Regions from separate parts of the Homo sapiens genome. Here region 1 is linked to region 2. A link means that fine-mapping ties the variant in region 2 to the expression of a gene that starts in the linked region. Tissue or cell type: whole blood. Region 2 holds a variant in brackets; the other region holds the start of a gene. All regions are shown on one strand. Distances are between the middles of the regions.

Evidence for each region. PIP is the estimated chance that this variant, and not a neighbour inherited with it, causes the effect.
Region 1: HMBOX1 starts here. The variant in region 2 is fine-mapped to the expression of HMBOX1 in whole blood (INTERVAL, PIP above 0.99).

The regions. Positions count from the first base shown.
Region 1 is chr8:28,885,675-28,893,778 of GRCh38, forward strand. It overlaps HMBOX1 (homeobox containing 1), which reads left to right and starts at 4,721. Exons shown (of 10, transcript NM_001135726.3): 1 at 4,721-5,004. It overlaps INTS9 (integrator complex subunit 9), which reads right to left and starts at 4,295. Exons shown (of 17, transcript NM_018250.4): 1 at 4,200-4,295. The coding sequence starts at 4,208. RefSeq lists enhancers at 4,078-4,634, 4,274-4,473, 4,635-5,191 and a silencer at 4,844-4,963.
Region 2 is chr8:29,048,478-29,056,581 of GRCh38, forward strand. HMBOX1 (homeobox containing 1) reads left to right here. Exons shown (of 10, transcript NM_001135726.3): 9 at 477-571; 10 at 2,541-4,785. The coding sequence ends at 2,678. It also overlaps the pseudogene RNA5SP260. Among named protein-coding and RNA genes, the nearest start is that of HMBOX1, 160 kb to the left of the region's middle. RefSeq lists an enhancer at 7,994-8,104. The variant TA/T (reference allele first, on the strand shown) is at 3,421.

The DNA.
Region 1 (8,104 bases), 160 kb before region 2:
CATGATGTTTCAAACTTAATTTCTGTCAACGTGCTCAGAATTTTTTGTTCCATGTTCTTTCGGTAAGGACCTTTGTGAATTCCAGTTTCTATCCTTAGCTGAACTGGCCATCAGCGTACTCAGTTAGGCTCAATCTATACAAATAACAGAACATGCTCTAAAATGTGCTAATTTAAAAGATATATTTCTAATTTTCCTCTGCTTTCTAAAATGATTCTGGTTAACTGAAAATGCCAATGAGTTTTCTTCAGTTAAATAAAGCTGCCTGAATATTGCATATTATAAATACGGAAAGCCACTGAAATCCTCTGAGTTGGTATCTAAGAAGGAGATACCCAAGTATTACGTTATAATGGCATCCATTGTTTTCATGTGGGTGTGTGAAAAGCCACCAAGAGGGTGATGTGCAAAGTTAGAGAATTATAAATGGTATCACAGGAGCTAAATTTGGAAGATAAAAAATACTAACTTCAGCACCAAATTAGTATGCTCTGATATGGGGGCCTTTAGCTCATCAAGAAAGTCCTCAAACTTAAAAAAAATTTTTTTTTAACCAATAACCTTAAAAACTTTTTTTTGTTTTTTGTTTTTGAGATAGGGTCTCATTTTGTCACCCAGGTTGTAATGCAGTGGTGCCATCACAGCTCACTCCAGCCTCAACCTTCTAGGCGCAAGTGATCCTCCTGCCTCAGCCCCTCAAGTAGCTGGGACTACAGGCACATGCCACGACGCTCAGCTAGTTTTTGTATCTTTTGTAAAGACAGGTTTTGCCATGTTGCTCAGGCTGGTCTAGAACTCCTGATCTCAAGCCATCTGCCTGCCTCCGCCTCCCAAAGTGCTGGGATTACAGTCATGAACCACTGCACCTGGCCTGAAGATCTTAATTGAACCACACTTGCATTTAAAGCTAATTTTTAAAAATAGCCTTGAATATATTTTCTGTATGCACTCTACCTTCTTTTTTTTTAAGAGATAACCTAGGCATGGTGCAGGGTGCTAGAGTTCCTACCCTCACTAAATAACAGGGAAACCTGGGTTTCGATCTTGGCTCTATCATTTTTAATCCATGCTAACTTTAAGCCACTTACTTCACCTCCCTGAAGCTCACATTTTTTGTCTGTAAAATGGGAATACTGTCACCTGGATCAAAGGATTAAATGGGAAACTACATAGCAAATACTTAGCACATTGCCTGGCACACAATAATTGCTTTATAAAAGGTAGCTATCATTCCTTTTTTACTTCAATGGTTACTGCTTATTGTAATCTCTTTAATTTCACTCTTTAATCTTTTCTCAAGGGTATCCATAGACCTTGATAAACCTTCAGAAATTATTTACCAATTATTTACACAGAATCTACATGGGGGAGGACAGACACACGCCAATAATTACAAGTGCTACAAATAGGAAGTATGCCATCAAATATATAACAGGGGTACTTAATTCAACGAGGCCCTGAAGAAGTGTTATTTAGACAGAGATCTGAAATATATGAAGAAATTAGCCAGGCAAAAAAGAGTGAGGCAGGCAATGGAACATATTCAACCAAGTTAAGTGTAGGAGGTTATCCTAAGGGCAAAGGAAGATACTGAGAGGGTTTCATGGAACTCTGCAATTAAAACAACTTCCGGATGCAGAGGAAAGAATGAATTTGAGAGGGTTAAGACTGAATGCAGAGAGACCAGATAAGGGGTCTTGTTGAATTCCGATTACAAAGACAGTATTCTAGTTGGACTGGAGAGAAATAGAACCTATTTAAGAAAGCTGCATTTAGGAAGCAGAATCAATAAGAGGTGGTCATAGATTGTGTGTGGGAAGGGTACTCTGGAAAGTGAATCTCAAAAATGAGAAAATGCTAAACAAAATGTGTTTTTGTTTCATAATTATAAATTTAAAACACAGCCTATTACATATTTCTGAAGCAGTACACAAAATTAAAACTTTTAGGCCATGGGAGGACTTATTCCAACCATTTGGGAGGCATGACACACCCATCTAACTTACTGAGCAACAATGCTTTTGGTATGTTGATGGGAATTCTCAATTACATTTATCTATCAACTACCAAATAAATTTTAGTATGTAATACATAGTTGCAAAGTAAAGAGGGAGTATGAGTATCAATAGAATACTTCCTTTTCCTCTGAGACATCTTTGGTTCTTAATGGAAAAAATAATTTTCCACTTTTTTACAATCCCCGGTTTCATATTTCTAAATAAATTAAGCAGGAGGATTTTATGAGCAAACTAAAATATATGTAAAGTAAACCCTGGCTTTTTGATACCCTCACTAATGAGTTGTTATGGGAAAAACTATTTCACACTTCCCTGCCTTCTTAAACTGAACACATTAAATATAATTTGCTCTTTATTGAGAACACAGGGTCCATGCTTTAGCCAATAAGGTACCAAGCTCTTATGCTCCTATAAGCTGACCTCTTTCATGGAAGGCCCTGGCTTACTTATCCTTATCAGTTCAAGAGTCACGTTTCCAGGAAGCTGTCCCCTGACCTCCCCAATCCTCTGTTCTCTGAATTCCCAAAACCCTGAACACGCCTCTATTTCACCATGAACACAGTGAATTATAATTTCGGACCAGGCATGGTGGCTCATGCCTGTAATTCCAGCACTTTGGAAGGTTGAGGTGGGCAGATACCTTGAACCCAGGAGTTTGAGACCAGCCTGGGCAACATGGTTAAACCCCATTTCTACAAAAAAAATAAGCAGGGTGCAGTGGTGCGCGCCTGTATTCCCAGCTATATGGGGAGACTGACGCGGCGAGAGGATCGCTTGAGTCCGAAAGGTGGAGGTAGCAGCGAGCTGAGAACGCGCCACTGCACTTCAGTCTGGGCCCCACAAAGCCAGACCCTGTCTCTAAATAAATAAATAATAACTTTGGTTTACTTTTCTATCTTCTTCTTAGGTTGCATGCTTCTGTAGGGCAACGGCTATGACTTTTAATTCTGCATTATTAAATGTGTAACACACTGACCCAGGGGTAAGTTGCTATTCTCAAGGTTTAGTGACCCGCATCCTTCCCCTTATATAAACAGATTTATACGGGGACAATTTCGGAATTGAATCCACTTTTAATACTTTCTCTGACTTCGCAGAAAACAGCTGGCTTTGCAGAATATATGCCTGTAGCACAATGATTATCAAGATGAGGGTAGGTGTGTTGTGTGGTTTGGCAAAGCATGTTCAGATAATTATATAAATGGTAAAAAATAAACTTTTTTTTTTTTTGAGACAGAGTCTCGCGCTGTTGCAAGGCTGGAGTGCAGTGGCGCGATCTTGGCTTACTGCAACCTCTGCCTCCCGGGTTCAAGCGATTCTCCTGCCTCAAGTAAAGCTTGACAATAACTTGGCTGCACAAATATGGGTTTTAAAAGGTTGAGAAACAGTGTTTCACACCTGCCTTTCTACACTATGTTATTAACTAATTGAATCGAGTTGGAATAAACTAGTTAGACTTGTGTGCACAATGAGTCAAATGGCTCAAATCAAAGGTCTGAGGAGCCTCCATGAACCAGGTGCTTGAGCTGTGTGATGTTAAGACTTCAGGTATACCGAGCACGCTTCATTCAGCCTTGGCTCATGAAGTCCCTACAGTCTTAGAATGGAATACCATATAACACTTCTCTGCCCATCTAAATCCCATGCAGGGTTTAAGACTCAACTTCTCCACACTCTGACCTCGTCCTGAATTCCAAGGGCAGTGAGGAGTCTATATAACAGGATATTTAATAAGTGATTACGTTCTGCTGGATGTTTTTTACTGTCTGCTTAAATCTAGCCAGTCTCAACAACAGTAGGGAGACAGGATACTCAAGCGCCAATCGAATGGAAACGGATTGTTAACAGCCTATTATAACCCTCACGTGGGAACCAGGACGTCCAAACCTGGTTAACAGAGCCCACAGAGTTCATGGGCGAAGGACTGTGACAGTCAACCTCTTGTCTGAACAAAAAGACCCACTAACGAGTGAAAAAAGACCTCCTGGGAGGGATGGGGTGGGGGAGAGGGAATTCAAACCTTCTCAACAACAAAAAGCAGCTTTCCTTAGCCCACTCCACTTTCCAGCTCAATAATTGCTACCCCTCCCGTGCGACGATTCCCTGCCCAACGTAGGAAAAAAAGAGGTCCAAAAGGTTATAGCATCACCTTTGCCCTCTGACCTAGGAGCGAAGACTCACCAGTTTCATAATGGACTTTTGGTGGTTCAATAGCAGTCACTGAACTCCTCAAACCCAGGAAGCGTCTTCCGGTGCAATCTCCGCCACCTGCCAGCCGAGAGCATCGCGGGACTTGCAGTCTTTCATCCTCACGTCCCTTCCAGGGGAATAATGGGAAATGTAGTCTCCCCTCCAGGCATCATGGGAACTGTGGTCGCCTTTCCTTTTCCTCCCTTTCCTCTCCGAACGCCTCCTTCCGTCAGCTCAAATTCATCCCAGCCGCCAATGCATCCTCCCTCTCCACCCCAGCATGATATCATGTCTTCCTTACGGGCCTGGGGCCCATGGTGTTCTGGGATGTGTAGTCCCGACGGCTCCGACTCCCCTTTCCCTCCTCCCAAAGGGAAGGCGGATGGGCACGGGGCTTGCCGGAAGTTGTAGTTCCCTTGGCCCTCTAGGCGCCGGGCTCCGCAATTTTTCTCAGGGGAGGCAGGAACTACAACTCCCAGGGACGCCCGGCGGCAGCAGGTGGGAGAGGGGCTGTTGATATCAATATGGCGGTTGTCAGCCAGACAAAGACAGTCAGTCTGATGTGATTGAGACAAGGGAGGTTTTTCAGGGGGAGACTGGGAGATAGGGGCCTCCCCTCCCCCTTCTCCTCTTCCTGCGCCGGCCTCAACCCCTCCCCAGTCCCCTCCCGACGGGCGCCCCACGCGGAAGACACCCCTCCCCCTCCCGCCTTCCCTCCTCCCTATCTCAGCCCTTCGTACTGGGACGTTGGGGAGGGGGCTGTGCCGGGCGGAGAGAACTCAGCGAGGATTCTGAGGTGAGTCGAGCGGTTTTGAAGCCGGACTACCTCAAGTCTCTTTCCTCACTTCTTTCTCTTCACTTAAAACAATTTTTTTGGAGGGGTTTTGGGGAGGAAGTGAGCGGACGCTGGGGATGGGTCTCGTAAGCGGCCGGATTGAGAGGAGGGAGGAAGCAGGGGGCTTCCGAGTGGGTGACCCAGACGCGGGCTGTGGGGTGGGGCAGTTCGTGGGGTCCGGTCCTGGAAAGGCGTCGACTGCCCCCCAACTCTTCTGGTTTCCTCTACGATGAGCGGAAGGTTTGAATCCTGGAGGTGGGGTCTCCGGTGTGGAGTTCTGGAAACTGTGAGGTGATTTGCAGGTGTGTTGGTTTGTTTGGGGTGTGTAAGTGTGTTTAAACTGTGTGACGTGTACTTGTGTGCTCTGCTCGTCTTGGAGCGGTGTCTGTAGATGGGAAGTTAGACAGCGCGAGTCCTCGCTCGCTCTGGGCCTGGGCTGAGGGGCGGGCGTGAGGTCCTGGTGCTGGGCGTTTGGGCTGGCGACGTGGTGCGAGGCGGCCGGGCTCAACAACTCGCTTGTGTCCCGTCGCCCGCTCACACTCTGCCACTCGCCTCCGCCCCCTCCCCTGGACGAATCTCCACCCCAAACTCCAGCCACGAGAACTGTAGAGATGGTGTGATGTGGAGATGGATTTTTTGCATCCTCAAGTCGGTAGATAGGTGGGAAAGGAAAAGTGTTTCTTAATATTTTATTCCGGAACCGTGTTTTGGTTACACTATTGGGGCTACTTTGAAAGGCGTCCTCCACCCACCTTCACCCCGAAACAGTAGGTAGAGGTATCTTGTCTTCGTGTGAATTAGATGAATAATTGCTGAAGATTCGGGGGGCCTGGGGTGGGGGTCGGGAGTGCTGGATTGTGTACGCGTCTGTGTGTGTCTACTAAGGAGACGGAATGTCTGTTATGTATCTGGAGATAGGGCGACTTATTTTCGTAGCAGGAGGAACTGTTGGAAATTATTTGCGGGAGAGGGGGTGCGCCGAAAGGCGCTGCTTGTATTTTTCTTCTACTCCACCCTGTTCTGTCTTGCATTTGCCTGAAAGCTGGTGGAATGGAACAGTGAAGAAGCATTGGGTGAGTAAAGGGAAGAATGCAGTTGGCATTAAAGATAACACTATGTAAAGTTGAATGGTATAAAGTGATTACTGTTTTTATTTACGCTGAAGCTTAAAAAAAATCACCCATGTATCATATAAGGTAGAGTGATGTGACTAGCTCATTTCTCTGGTATCCTGCAGGTACAGAAACCTCTGGCTTCCCTCTTCCTTCCTTCCTATCCTCCCTCCTTCCTTCCTTCCTTAAGTCCTTCCTTTCTTTCTTGGCTTCGTACAACATTTCTCTTTCTGTTGGACATAATACCGCCTGTGTCTTTTTATTTAGTTTGTGCTAATATGGTTGTGCTTTTTGTGGTTTTACCATAAAATGCATCGTTAAATGCATTTATTATTTTGCATTTATGCTGCAGGTAATTATCACATCAGGATTGCAGTGCTTTGCATTAAACTTATTTTAAAATTGTGCAATTAAGTTGCTTGATCTAGCTGAATTATGTTTCTAAGTCAAAGTTGGGAAATTTGAATTCTAAATTTTTTTTCAAATTTCAATTAGAGTTAAAAAGGAAAGGATTGCAACATCTCTTATTTCTCACAGTTTTTAATATTTAATAACACACTAGGAGAATTTAAGGTCATATTTTGTACTTCCTTATTAAGTTCTTCAATAATCCTTATGTGACAATTTTTTTAGTGTAACGGATTTTTAAAGTAAAGAAATTGGCATAATTTCTATTTCGACTGTTGAGAATTGAATATATTCCCCAAACTTATCAATTCTTGAATCTGCCACCTATCATCAGTAAGGGACCTTTAGATTCTATGATAACTGAAAACCACATTGATAGAGTGTGTAATTTTATGATATGTCCTCTAACCATTGATTTAAAATTTTTGCTGTTGGTCATTCACACAGATAAGGGGGACTGAAAGAGTGAGGTAGCATGTATATTTCAATTGACCTGAATAGAAAAAAAAATGTGATTTCTAAATCTCAGATGTAGAATATACAATATGTTGATTCAAAACTAAGCCATTAGTTTGTGATAGACCAGGATTTTCAGAATCATTTGTTTTAAGCTTGTATCTTAACTTGAAACACTACTTTGCAAAAACCAGAGAAAAATCCTACGTAACTACTTAACGGAGTGTTTTGTTTTATTTTTCTGAAGCATATTATAATAGTCATGGAGTTTTTTAAAAAATGTTTAATAATTATTTTAGAAGTAAAAAACCAACATGTTTGTTAATATTTTAAATTGGAAAAACACGAGTGTTTTCTCTTCCATCTACCCTTACCTCAAAATTTCTTTTTGTTTTGTCTATAGAAGTGCAAAGTTATTTACTTGAAAAAGCATTCATTAAACTTTTTCTGGCTACTAGTGGGATCAAAATCATTACATGTAAACCAAATATATTCCCAGCATTTGTTGGGGGTGATTCTGTTGCATTTTAAGTACTGGGCATTAAAATGATGTAAAGCCTTTACTGCAGGTTAAAGCATAAAACATTCTCAGCATGTGAGAGTCATATGGTTTACAAATAAAGTAGAAAACCAGGGCATGGGTGCTTGTCCAGCTTACAATTTCATCCCGTAACTGTGAAAGACACATTTATTTTAATGTGATTGCTTCTAAAGATGTTGCCTGTATTATGGGAAGTTGAAAATCTAAGCTGCTTTTAACTAATCTGTTGCTAGTTTAGTTTACTGCATTTAGTGAACACTATGTATGGTCACAAATACGCATCAAGGAAAGGAGCCTTTAGCTGGAAGTTGAATGCCTTTAGTGAGGCTTCGTTTTCACTGCTGTACAAACAGATTTCAGTCTTCTAGCCCAAATCCTCAGTTAAAACATCGCTAATAGAAACTTAATAGCTCAGTGTTCCTAAGTTACAAAATATGTGGCAACAAATCTGTCATTGTTACATCATTTAAAAAATAGCAACCAGCTTATGGCAATTTTTGTGGCAAGTGTTGATTGGAATTCTATTGCTTGTTTCATAGATATT
Region 2 (8,104 bases):
GGATGTTGGTTTTTAGCTTCTAAAATTGCATTTCATTTCTTCCATCCAAGTACTAACCAGGCCTGACCCTGCTTAGCTTCCAAGATCAGACGAGATCGGGCGCATTGAGCGTGGTATGGGCATAGAATGCATTTCATTTCCTTCCTTTGTAAATACACTTTTTATTCATCAGTACAGTTCTCATATGCTCTATAGAACCCCAAGATAGGAAGACTGTTTAGTTAGTTAGCAAGTATTTATGAAGCACCTAACATGCACAGCAGCAGAGACCCCAGAATGGCAAATGTGTGCCTCCCCTGACCTACATGCAGTTGAATTTCATCCATCTTACAGTCTAAAAGAAACAAATGTAGAGAAATACAGGTTCTTGTTTAATTACATTCTAATTAATTTCCTTAGCACAAAAATTCATTCAGTGTTTCAGCCATTGTGATAAGGTAACAGATAATTTAGGGATCTATTTGCTTTTTTCGAAGAAGCAGCAATCCTGGAGAGTCATGGGATAGATGTGCAGAGTCCAGGAGGCCACTCAAACAGTGATGATGTCGACGGGAATGACTACTCTGAGCAGGTGAGCCCCTGCGCAGCTGGGCGAGGTTCTTGGTGCCTGAGCAGGGGGTATAGTGGGACAGCTTAGTTCCTTGGGTGTGGCTGATGGGGTGGGGGAGGGGAAACAGTCACTGTCCCTCCACTCTGCTCCTGTGTCTAGTTAGATTTCATGTAATTTGAAAGGAATGTGGTAAGATTCAGTTGTCCTGTTGAATTTGTGAGAGATCGTTATTCACCCACATGGATTTATTGTCATACAACAGGATACTTGGCAAGTACGCAATGGGGAGGAGGAGGAGGGAAGAAGTTCAGAGGGAGGCAGAGAAGCAGAGAAGGTAGAAGAAGAGAGGAGGATCTGATCCAAACAAGCAAGTTACACCATTCACGACACACACTCAGTGTTTGAGAAATACTAGGGGCAGCTGGACCCCATGCCTAAACACGTACCGACGCAGGGCACGATGGAAGGCCCCACTCACTCTGGCCCCACTGCAGTGGGAACCCTCCTGCCCAAAGGAGTGGTTCTTCCAGAGTCTCTGGCACACTGACACATGCATCCTCTCATAAGTGCAATACCTGCATGACTCTTCACCTCGCCCTGATTTATTCTGCATTGCTTTTGGGGAAAATGTATTTAATTGTAGCCACTGCGTGGAGTAATTCAGTAACTAAGACTGTGGGAGTCCCTCCTCGACCCCCACATAGATGTTGACAGATTTCATTAAAATTTTGATAGGATTTAAATTTCCATTTGGAATATGCAGAGAACGCATGGTACCTTCCCCTAGACCACAGCAAGAAAACTTCTGCTCATTTTTCTGGGGTCTGTGCTTTTTTCTTGCTCCTCAGCCAGCTCATATAGTCCAATGTGTTCTTTAATAGCCTCTGTTTACCACACACCTAGAATGCATGCAAGTGTGTGCTGATCCCTTTGTAAATTCTAAAAACTAATCTGTGAACATCAGAAGGAAACAATGATGTCCACACTTCTGAAGAACTACCATTTTTTCCCATTTAGGACTCTAGTTAATAGCCCCAAGAGAATATTCTGTAAGTCTTTCTGTTCGGAAACATTCCTCTTTTCAGTCTACCCACATAGATGGATCATTTCCATCTTTTTTTACAGATGCCCTAAGGGCAGCACATTCCATGTTTTGTTTGTTTTTTTCCTTAAGGGACTTACCCTTTCCAAAGCTCTTTGATACGGAGTTCCCCTGAAGATGACAGGTGAGAAACATACCCCTTATTTGTAACACCATCTTCAGTGCCTGACGTACATCCTGCAATGCCAGCTTCCTTCACAGCTTTATTGTTTAACACATTGAGCTGCGCGGGGAGGACAGCTTCACACTAGTTCTAGGTAAGACGCCTGCCGCTCCCCTTGCACAGCTGCCTGCAGCAGGAGAGCTCGACACCTTCCTCCCCTTTCTCCCGTAGCCGTTTCTGGCAGTGACATGTGTCCTGTTGTAATGGAGAATTCTTTTTTTCTTTTTTTACAAAAATGCATTTTTTATCTGTAAGATGTAATTGTAAGTTCTGTCTAGTTTTCTCAGTTCAGAGAGGGACCATGAATTCTAATAATCTATTTGTAAGAGCAGCAATCTGGAATTTAATAGCTCACTAGTATGGCCTTCAGTGATTAGTGCTATATTTGTTACAAACAGAAAGATCCAAATTGTTGGTTTTATATCAATCACTGCAGGTTTGATCATCATCACCAGCAATCTTATTAATAGAATGAATAGAATTCTCAGTGATGAAAAACATTTTTTGTGCTTTTTACTTGTTGAATCATAAGATTATCAACTGAAAATCTTTGGACCTATATCCATTCAGTGTCTACTTAAATACAATTTACCTCTATTTTATCATGAGCCCCTCCCCCAGTTTCCTCCCACGAATGTTCTGCCTCCCCTTGCCCCAGCATGTCTCTCTGTGACTAAAGAATTCTTCCAATCCACTAATAACATTTCTTATTTCTGCACATCTAGGATGACAGTACGAGCCATAGTGACCACCAAGACCCCATCTCATTAGCTGTGGAAATGGCAGCAGTCAACCACACTATCTTGGCATTGGCCCGACAAGGAGCCAACGAAATCAAGACAGAGGCCCTGGATGATGACTGATCAGGGAGGTTAAACATGACAAGTTAACTTAGTTTAGACGTAGCACCTTAGCAGACTTTCCTCGGTCCTTAACATGTGTTCTTACAGTATAACTTGCAGTTTCTTGTATGTCAGGTAGCTGTTAGGGTCTTGTTCTGTGAAGATGGCATGGTGCCCTCAGCCTTTGCATATACTCTCTCAGTATTAACTCCCAGTAAATAATAACCAACCAACCAACCAAACTTCCCTCTCCCAGCCCCCGAGGCTAGAAAATCTTGCTGCTCCGTCTTAGCATTCCAAGAAAGTGCTTCCAGGTATTTAGATAGCCCTCAGTTCTCAAATATTAGACTACGTGTAAAATCTTGGGTACCTTTAGATTCTTGTAACACTAGTCTGTACTCCCTTTTCCTTCCCCAAGACTGATAGGATGCAAGCTGAGGTCGTGGCACAGGAATGACAGACACCATTTGGGGAGTATCCACAGAGTCAAAGGAACACTAGAATCCCCACCTCAGCGTGAGGATAATTGATTTCCAGCTGCAATAAGCCGTGCCTCATTATAGCCACACTGTGGCTAGATTATACTTCTTTGGGTGCTGTGCTAAGAATGTCAATGGAAAAAGCCGATCTCAGATTTTGTTTGAAGTTAACATGCCTGACACAGACATCCTTTCCTCTCACAAGCTGTGTGACTTAGTAGATAAAATACTGCCTTCTGCCTTTGGGACCATGATTAAAAACAAAGACAAAAACCAAAAGTCAT[TA/T]AAAAAAAAAAAAAAAAAAACCCAGCTTGAGAGCATTGGAAAAAAAAAATATGAGCTGAATGTCTAATGGATGCTAAGTCCAGTTTTCAGAACCACTGTACATTCCACGGCACAGTTAGCAGTGCCTGCCTGGAAAAGTTTTGGAGGTCATCGTGGAAGTTGCTTTGCCTCCTGTCAGTGTCCCCTTTCCCTGCTACCAAAAAAGTCTTTCAAGGATGGAGCTAAGGTCAAAAATGAGTGAAAAAACTTGCAGTGTTTGTATCCATTAAACGGAAGCCCCCTCACTCTGAGAGGTCACTAGAGGACTTCATAGTGGGGTTGTGCTGCTTATCACAGATGCAGACACTTGCCCAGATAGGAGCAGAGAAAAGCAGGGGACGTTTCCTACTCACATTGTGGCTGTATGAGAACACGATGGGACTGCTTTGCTGTTCTCTTTACTCTGTCCTTGGAGAGGTGTGAAAAGCTGTATTGCTACAGGCAATTTATTTAATAATTGGAAGCCATATTGATAATGGATGTGGTAATATTTGTAAAGTTTAATCTACTTTAAGCGGCAGTAACTAATGGAATTTTTTTCCTTGATCACATATGTAGCACTTTTGTTACTTTTTAAAGATATTTATATTTGATAAATCTTTTTTTCATTTTGAGAACTCAAAATACCAAACAGTGAACTTGCATTCTAAAGTCACCCTGTGATCACCTTGTCATCTAGTAGCAAAATGATGAACTATTCATGCATCAAAGAAAATTACATCTGCTGGCCTTGTATGAAAATGATCTCTTGGCATCCCGATTAAATGACACACTGTCACTGTGGGTAAGAGGAAAGAGCCTTCAATGTAGCAGCACAGGGTGCGCCTGAAAGAGGCACAACTGCTGTGGATTTTCTGCCTCGCTCCATCTCTCCTATGTATAATGAAGCCTTGTTTAAAGGGGCATGTGGGGCTGGATGTTAAGCACGGCTTCTTTTTGTCCGTTACCTGAAAACAATTTCTAAGATAAAAGGAAGGTGCCATTTCCTTACCTCTTCACCCATCCTCCTCCACCAAATGTATTCAACTTAAAACTGTGAGAGAGAGAGACTGAATGACCTTCCTCAGTTTTCCCTTTCTCATTCAGGAGATACTGAATATCCGCCAGTTTGTAGTTGGTTTCCTTCCACTTAAGGCACACGCTGACTGCATCATTTCCTTATCTGTTAATCCTGCTTATGTGAGTGTGAGGAAAGTCTTTGAGAGGGCATGAAAGTGCCACCTTATATATGTCTGTGACTTTAAAGAGCTATATGCAGGGCCTGGTCCCACTTTTGTCCATGGATTTCAGGGGGAAAAAATATATGTACTTTTTTCAGCTTCCAAGCATTGAAGTGAAGTGGAGCCGTCTCTTCTGTTTTACTGTATTACTTGAACCAACAAATTCAAGAGTAGCATTTGTTATTCTCAGGAATGAGCCTCCCACCGCCCCCCCCCCACCGACTCATATTCTTTTTTGGTTTATCTTTTTATTTCAATTAGGAGATTACGTTCTCTTCCTTTCCTTTTATTTTGCTTAGAGGAAATGTAACATAGTCCCATTTTTGTGGAATTTTGACGCTTATTCTCAATTGAATCAGAAAGTACAAGGAGACAGAGAAAAAATCCGCTCTGACAAGCCACATCCATGATTGATTGTAAGGGGATTATTATAATTGATAGCTTCTTTATCATGGGATTGCTAGTATCATTTGTACTTGCTGGTCTTTTTAAAGGAACAGACTGACTCAAACTGTTAAGACAGCTGCAGTTTCTAAAGAAATACAAAGATTGCCGTGGATGCACTCAAAGGTTTCATTGTTTTAACACCTTTAAGGGAGAAAAAAAGCTTCAGAGAATAAAGGCAAGTTCGCATCCATGAAGGGCAGTACCAGACCCTATATGGCAATGTGGTAAAACTGAAAGAATATTTCTACCACTGCAGGAGAATGTCCTGGAGAGCTCAGTGGGAACAGGAGGAAGGCATCTTCCACCCACAGTTGTTCTTGTCATTGGAGAAGACCGCTGGCTGCTCTGAAGACCCACTGCCTTACATGTCACTTTTGCTTTTTCACCAAGAGTGAGAATTTACTTCCTTTGGGCCTAGATTTAAACCTGTTAGTTTTCTGTTTGTCACCAAGTTCAATTCTGCCATTTTGTCCAGGCCACCTTGGTTCTTGTAATGGTGTGTGGCGCTGCTACTGTTATATTTATTTCTAGTGTCTTTAGGTAGTATATTTCTCTCTTAGGCTTTTTCAGGTTTTAGAGGTGGAATTAAAATAGAAACCCTAAACTTCCGTATTACTGAAGGGAAAGCAGCCAGGCTCTAAAAACTCACACTGTATGCTTCTTGGTTGTTCCGCCCCTCCCGTTGTACTTCACTCTCTCCTTCAGGCCCCAGGGGACTCCCGCAGGGGCTGTTCCTTCCTGTCGAGGAGGACTTTCAAAGGTCTTTTGAAGTGGGGTGTGGGGGAACTTGCCAACAGGTATTCATATAATTTGTTATTTCTTTAAAGACACCTTAATTGAATTACTATGGTCAGATGGGTAAACTTTCCAAACTTTAAAAGCACTGACACAGGGACCTTTTAAAATGGGTCATCTTGATGAGATCTCTGCCCATCTGTTGATAACCCTAACAGTGGATGAAGGCTGGGGAGGGCAACACCCTGCATTCTTATCTGAGCCCTTCAGTGCTATTCAGTTCCAAATGTTTTGATTTGTTTCAACAAAGTCTGTAATGTTGGAGTGCCCTTAGAGCAATTTTCTTCACAATCAAAATCACAATCCTTTAAGTGGTTAATAAATGTAGTTGCCTTCCACTCACTTATGACTCTGGACAGTCCCCACCCCTGTCACTCACAAGGGCAGTCTTCCCACCCCACCCCCATATTCACATTCCCATGGCCCATCACAGGAAGAAGGAACCTGGGGCAGAGACGAGGAAAATCATTAAGGCAGAGGTGTACACATCCAGTTCTCTAGTTCTTGGTAGATTTATGGTGGCAGCCAGTTCAGTGGTCACCACCACCTATGTTAGGTCCATGTATCCAGATATATTTTACCTCAAAGGAGATGACTGAAGAATTCACCAATATAGTTATTATTTCCTTTCTGCCTGTTTAACATTTGTCTTTAAGAAATATTGGCTTTAGAAACTTCTCCCTTGGATATCAACCATCAGGCACCAAGTACAAACAGACTCATTGAATCAAGAGTCTCCAGCCTCATCCTGTGAATAGCTCCTCTTCTGTTTCCCTCTGACTAGGCCTTCAGCTGACTTCTTTGCTGGAATTTTCTAATCTTGTGACAGCAGGGAAAAGCTGGATGTGGTCCATCTCTTAACACAGACACTCCTCCCTGTCTTGACCAGCTACGTATTCCACTGACCAGCCTCATCATCTCTGCCCTCAACAGTGGAAATGATCTCTTTCCCACAGATGTTCTCCCTCCCTCCTTCCTTCCCTTCCCCTTCCTACAAACGTGAACTCTTAAGTCTTTACTCTCTGGTCTTCAGAAGGGTTTGGTTACAAGCAGTCTTCCCATTTAATTTGTGGCTCTGCCTTTTAAAATTGTTTTTTGTCTTTTGTTGTTCAGAGAACGACCAGAGTATTTTCTCCCCAGTGTGTCCCAACAGATTCTTAGGCAATAATTTTTCTTGTTGATGATCCCGTGCTCAGTAGCACACTACATTGAAGAACCCTGGCCCTCACCATTGTGTGTTGGTTTCTGTGTTAATCTCTGTGATCTGAATCATGTCAGAGTGATGATAGATTTTGTCATTTTGTTGTGATTATTAGTAATGTTTTACTACTGTATTCATTGGGGCTGTGTTGAGACCAGCCAAATCCATTTATAGCTTTACTGAGCCGGATTGATTTGTCAGGATTTCCCAAGTGAAAGTTGGGCATATTGCCCAGCTCCTGCTGGTGGTATCTTTGGGGAGTGTGGGATGGGGTGGGGGGATGTCCTGGGGCAGGGGTGGGAATGACACATATAAGGCATTCCATTTTTTTTTTTTTTTTTTTTTTTTGCTTGTGCTTATTAAATAGCAAGGGTGTTTACTCAGGATTTGGGGATCAGTTGTAGCCATGTTGAATTTGGCAAACTGAGCTGTGTGCCCTGAAAGCCCTCTTTTTATTTCTTCATTTCCATATTGTCTGACTTACTTCACCTAGGAATACCTGAGTTATCCAGTCCAGTGTTCCCTGATGAGAGTGGAAGATTTTCCTGGAGAGGCAGCTGTGCATGGCCAGGTCATCTGTCAGGATGTTGTGGTGGTGTGTGATCAGAGCAGAGGGCCTTTCTTTTCCTGTACTGTGCTCTACTTCCTTATGCATGCTTGGTTTCAAAGATGACCGCCACTTTAAAAGAAAGATTTCCTCACAGCTCTCCAGAGAACTATCATACTAAGGTGATAGGAAAGGCTTCTCGGATACAAGCCAACAAGTCAGTTTTCTGATTACAGAAACTCCTCTCACAGGTTATGTTTGGAAAGGCTGTTCTCCATTCCACTTATAAATTGAAAGTGATAAGCTACTGTCTTGTGATCTTGCAGGGCCAGTGGTTGACTCATCTCTGAAAGGTAACTTCGTTCATATCTATGTATTTTCAAACCTGGAAGCTTGTAAATTGGAAGTTTCAGTATTAGCTTTATTATTCTTTC